Linked DNA regions of Homo sapiens: region 2 is linked to region 1. Evidence: fine-mapped expression QTL. A gene starts in region 1. The other region holds a variant in brackets. All regions are shown on one strand. Distances are from middle to middle.

Evidence for each region.
Region 2: its variant is fine-mapped to the expression of EVC in whole blood (TOPMed, PIP 0.91).

Annotation. Positions count from the first base shown.
Region 1 is chr4:5,709,197-5,712,191 of GRCh38, reverse strand. It overlaps EVC (EvC ciliary complex subunit 1), which reads right to left and starts at 991. Exons shown (of 21, transcript NM_153717.3): 1 at 638-991. The coding sequence starts at 811. It also overlaps a transcript of EVC2 not described here. RefSeq lists an enhancer at 243-312 and silencers at 783-932, 983-1,032.
Region 2 is chr4:5,731,819-5,734,318 of GRCh38, reverse strand. EVC (EvC ciliary complex subunit 1) reads right to left here. Exons shown (of 21, transcript NM_153717.3): 5 at 884-968. Among named protein-coding and RNA genes, the nearest start is that of EVC, 22 kb to the right of the region's middle. The variant C/T (reference allele first, on the strand shown) is at 1,089.

The DNA.
Region 1 (2,995 bases):
ATTGCCAGCGTCCCATCGCAGACTCCCCATGCGGTGTCATAACCGATAGTTTACTTGCAAACTTGCAATTCGTCCTTCTCCTTGAGGTTCACAGCCTCAAGGCAGGGTCTCTCCCGCTCATGAATGTCGTCCCTAGGCCAGTGACTGGCTGTAGAAGGTGCCTGAAAACTTTTACTGTGGGGTGAATGAAAAAATGAATGCCAATGTGGCAGCTGGGACTCAGGCCAGGCGACGTAACCCACACCGCAAGGATGGAAGAGGCAGAAGCAGGAATAGGCATTCAGGCGTGGGAGCCCCAGCCGTCCTTCTGTCCACCATGGCGAGCAGGGCCAGCGTCCTGTCCAAACCCTTGGTGCTGCAGATGAGGAGACCGAGGCGTGGCGCAGTTGGGCTGCTGTCAAGGATCACCCAACGGAGTGGGATGTAACAGGCACCGCAGGGGACCCCAGGCCAATGCCCTTTAGTCACGCCGCCACCTCCCTCCTGGAGCAGAAGGGGAACCCGACGCCTAAGCGGTTGCGTGCGAAGTTCCCAACCAGGCTCAAGGAGTCGCAGAGCCGGGGCTCCGGGCCCGCAGGACCCAGAAGCCACGCGCCCCGCGCTCCCCGCCCCGCCGCTGTCTGCTCGGCCGACCCACCTGGTGTCGCGTGCGCTGGCGGCCCGCGCGGCAGCCAAGCCAAAGGCCGAGGCCGAGGCCGAGCGCGGCGCCCAGCAGCACGGCGGGGGCCAGCAGGGCGGGCGCCGGCCGCAGCGCGTCCCGCCCCAGCAGCAGCCGCGCGTCGCTCTTGCAGGCCGCCCCGCCGCGGGCCATCCGGGGCGCTCAGGCTGCCGCCCCGCCGCATCCCGCCGCCTGCTGCACCGTCCCCGCCAGGGCGGCGACGCGGGACTTGGAGCCCGGGCGGGCCAGGGGCGCGGCCCGCTCCGCAGACTTTCTGGCCTGTGCAGTCTCCCGACTCCTGCTTCTCTCCCCTTCCCTGCTTCGCCGAGCCGGAGGGAGGAGCCTGGATCACCGCTCAAAACTTTCAGCCACCCCCGCCCCAGCCCTGCCCCTGCACTGAGCATGCCCAGAGACAGACGCGCCTCCCAGCCCCGGACCCTTCCGGAGGGGGGCCCGGTTTCCACCCCTTTAACTTTACTGAGGCTTAGAAGGCTCCTTTAAGTTTTTTGAGGCTTAGAATATGCTACGCATTTAGCTTAATGATCTCATTAACTTTCTCAATAACCCTCTGCGGTGGGTGCTCCGCCCATCCTCCTGATGAAGACGCTGGGATCAATGCAATTCCAACCCCCTGCCCTTGCCCCTAACCTCTACCCATCAACCTTCCCGGGAACACACCGCCCTCCACGCCTCTGAACTTGCTCACGCGAAGACTCCTGTTTTAATCTTATTTTGTCCCAGGGAAGGTCGAGACAATGGGTGGAGACACCGTTACACTCAGTCTCCACTAGGAGGATGGGTAAAGGGATCCTTACACCCAGACCCCACTGAGACGATGGGTAGAGAGACCCTTACACCTAGTCCCCACTAGGACCAAGGGTAGAGAGACCCTTACACCCACTCCCCACTGAGACAATGGATAAAGAGACCCTTACACCCGCTCCCCACTAGGACCAGGACACTGCACCATCCTTCATTTACTCAGCACTTGGAGAGAATCTGTTGTGTGTGTGTTGCAGGCTGGGGGATAGGCCAGCCACAAACCAGGCAGTGTCCAGGCTAGTGAGTATCTCACAGTTGTTTAGAGTGATAAAAAATTAAAGGAGTTCATCACTGTGTTTGCTTTAAACAAACATTTATGGGGTAGCTACTAGATGTTTGCTTTTGTCCTGGGTGCCTGGGTAAAGCACACATGCACATGCACGACTGCACACTTGCACTCAGGGGCACACACACACACACACCTACCCTGTGGAGCTTAATTCCCTGTGTGGGCCGGGCTAGGGGACACCATGGGGATCTGCTTCAGCAGAGGAGGGCTTTGTCCTTTCAGCCTAGATGTCCAGCTTGTTTCTAGTTTGTTTCATCATTTCCTCATGGCAAGATGGGAACTGTTATCCAAATTCTTCATCTTTTTTTAATAAATGAAGAAACTGACAGCTGGAGAGGAGAGGTGACTCATTTGCAATTAAGGAGTGGGGCAGAATTCTTGTCTCATTTACACCTGTGTCTGGCTTCAGGGCAAACTCTCTGCTATGTGGAGCTTCTTATATATTACCTTAGAAGCATCTCCAAGGTTCCTGGGGACATGTATGGGGGCAATAACTTGACGCTCTTGTTTTACATTTCCATGAATGCTTAGGCTTTAGTTTTTAAAATGTGGTGTTTGGGCCAGGTGTGGTTGCTCACGCCTGTAATCCCAGCACTTTGGGAGGCTCAAGTGGAGGATTGTCTGAGCCCAGGAGTTTAAGACCAGTCTTGGCAACATAGTGAGACCCTGACTCCATAAAAAATACTAAGGAGATTTTTTAAATGTAGGGTTATTTGCTTTTTACTTTATCATAAAGTTGTTGACTATTAAATTAACCTTTAAATGACTGACTGTCAAACAACTCCAACGGTCCAGCAACATGCTTGGCATTTAGCCTGTGGTCTTGTCACATGCCTGACAGCTGCCACGTACCCCCTGGTGTGGGGAACTTGGCTTATAAATTCTCAGCTTCTCGAACCCCATGGCCTTGTCCATGTTAGGTCAGGAAAGGCCTGTCCTTGGATGGTCTGGGTTATGGGGAGAGAGGCTGCCAGGGGCCAGGCTCGCTGGCCTGAGACTTTATAGACAGCCTAACAGCCTGCCCCGCAGGAAGGCTGGCGGGAGTGGAGCCCTCCCCCGTCAACAGGTGTCAGCTGTCACCCAGGACCTAGGCAGGGATGAGGAAGCACACAAAAGGCTCCACCAGTCCCCCTTTTTGTGTCTTTCTCCTCCTCCTCCTCCTGCGTCCCTTGGCAAAGCAAATCCCTGTCCCCTCGGAGAGTTCAGGGAGAGCTTGCTTAGGGCTG
Region 2 (2,500 bases), 22 kb before region 1:
GCCCTGTAGACATATCTGTGTGTCTGTCCACCTGTTTCTAGCTCTCCTCTTTCTCTCATCTGCCTTCTCTCTGTAGGGTCTCATTCCTCATTCAGTAATTCAGAGAATGTGCCTTATGGAGAAATAACACTTTTTTTTAACCCCCGTCATCTTGATGCCTGAATAAACCCACCGGGGTTCTGCGGCTAAAGTGGGACTCCTCTCTCTGGCTTCCCATAGCTCAGGTCCGTGGCTGATTCAATCAGAGGCCAGGTGCATCTGGCAGAGACTAATGTTGTTTTCCCCACATCCACAGTTCTGAGTTCTTGTTCATTCAGTCAAGAGAACACGTGGCCCCATGAAAAGGTACTGAACTTCTCATCTCAGTGCCACTCCTGCAGCTTTATAACTTTGGGTAAATCCTCTGCCCTGTGCCTCAGTTTTCTCACCTGCAGAGTGGACATGATAATGACACCCGCCCCTCTGGGTTGTGCTGAGGTTTAAGTGTAATACTCCTGGGACCTCGTACATAGCAAGACTCAAGAAAATTCATGCTCATAAATATTCTTATCATTATTATCATTCCTTTAAACATATTGTTCTCTTTTAAATATCTTTTATCTCTATCTCCAGCAGGAGGTGTAGCCCGGGAGGAGGCACTCATCTTTCTGCTGAGGCCCCTACAGCTCTGGTTGAAGTCAAGGCCATGCCCCACCAACAGGCGTGAAGTGCTTTTCCATTTTGTGGCTGCATGCCTGACAGCGCCGCTTTCCCCCACCTCACAGCGGCTCTGTTTCCACTGATGTCTGCCTCTCAAGGGTCTCTGGGACTCACTGCACACAGAGTCCTTGTCTCCCAGCTCCTGTCCCCATGAAAAGGAGGGAATGCGAACATCTCCACCTACCATATGCTTTTCCTGCCTCAGTGCCGTGTCCAAATGCAGCAGGTCTTTTAAGTGAAGGCTGTAGATACACAGGTCAACGTCTACACTGCAAAATAAAATGAGAAGCGGAAAAGACTTTCAGGGTATCGGAAATGAAGAGTAAGAATATTGGCACGTCCCTCATCAGTACAAGCCACAGCACACCCTGCCTCAAACTCTCATTCTG[C/T]AGCATGCTGAGGTCCTTACGCTCACTCCAGGTTTATAAGAAGGGATCAAATGAGCTGTTTGAAACCCACTAATGGCCATAAGAGAACAGTTGGTGTCAGAGACATAGGTGCCTGGGACTTCCAAGAGAAAACCAATGGAGAGAGGGAAGGGAGAGAAATAAAAATGACGTTTCCTCCTTTGAGTATTTTCTAAAAAAAAATTTATTTACTTATCTTTTTAGAAATAGGGTTTTGCTCTGTCTCCCAGGCTGGAGTGCAGTGGTACAATCACGGCTTACTGCAGCCTCCACCTCCCGGGCTCAAGCAATCCTCCCACCTCAGCCTCCCGTGTAGCTCGGACTACAGGCATGCACCACCATACCCGGTTGATTTTGGATTTTATTTTAGAGATGGGGTCTCACTATGTTGCCTGGGCTGGTCTTAAACTCCCGAGCTCAAGCAATCCACCCACCTTGGCCTCCCAAATGTTGGGATTACAGGCATGAGCCATGGTGCCCAACCTCAAGCATTTTCATGTCTATCATCACGTGTCACCTTTCCTCGGTGCCTTAGCAGAGACATTCTCATGCCCATTTTACAGATGCAGAAACTGACTCAGGGAAGAGAGAATCAGACAAATCAAGTGACCATCATAGGGTCAACGGGGGCAGATACATGGCAGAGTGTAAAAGTCTTTGACCTTTTTTCCCTCATAGGCAAATGCATTTTAAATGATGACTCTCCCACCCAAACCGTTTCAAATCCTCTAAGTCCCAAATGCTGAAAGCAAGCCGTTCTAAGCCAGGGCTGGCCAGTCCAAGAAGGCCCCTCTTCAACGAAGTCCCTTCTGCCTGGGCCACTTTCAGGCTCAAGGTGCTGAGCCCAGTGTTTCTGCAGCAACTCTGAGCAGAGGCTGTGCCCTGGATCATCCCACCTCTTGGACTCAGCGGAATTTTGGAGCAGAGAGAGGCCTGAGGCCTGGTGTGTGAACCCGCCAGACTGAGCTTCTTAAGCCCCCACCACGTGCGGAGCCCTGCTCTGGGTTGGGTCAAATCCGGCTCCGTCACTCACGGCTGTGTGACCAGCAAGTCACGCAGCCTCTCTGTGTTTCCCTTTATTCTTTGTGAACTGGAGGAAATGACAGTACCAACTTCATAGGGGTGTTAAACGGAATTCATTCACTCACTGATTAATATTTACTGATTGCTGAACTTGTCCCAGGATCCCCCTCACTGGGCAAAATCCTCATGAGATCATCAATCCCTGTAAAGTGCTTAGCACTCTGCCCGGTACTCAGAAGTACCCACTTAATCAACTTCGCCAGTAGCTGGGAGCACGCCAGTGATTAAATGAGGCCTCCCTGTCATCTCTCCCCGGGGCTCAGGCCTGACTCCATAACCCCAGTGTTGGGCAATACAGCACAGGAAGTGAC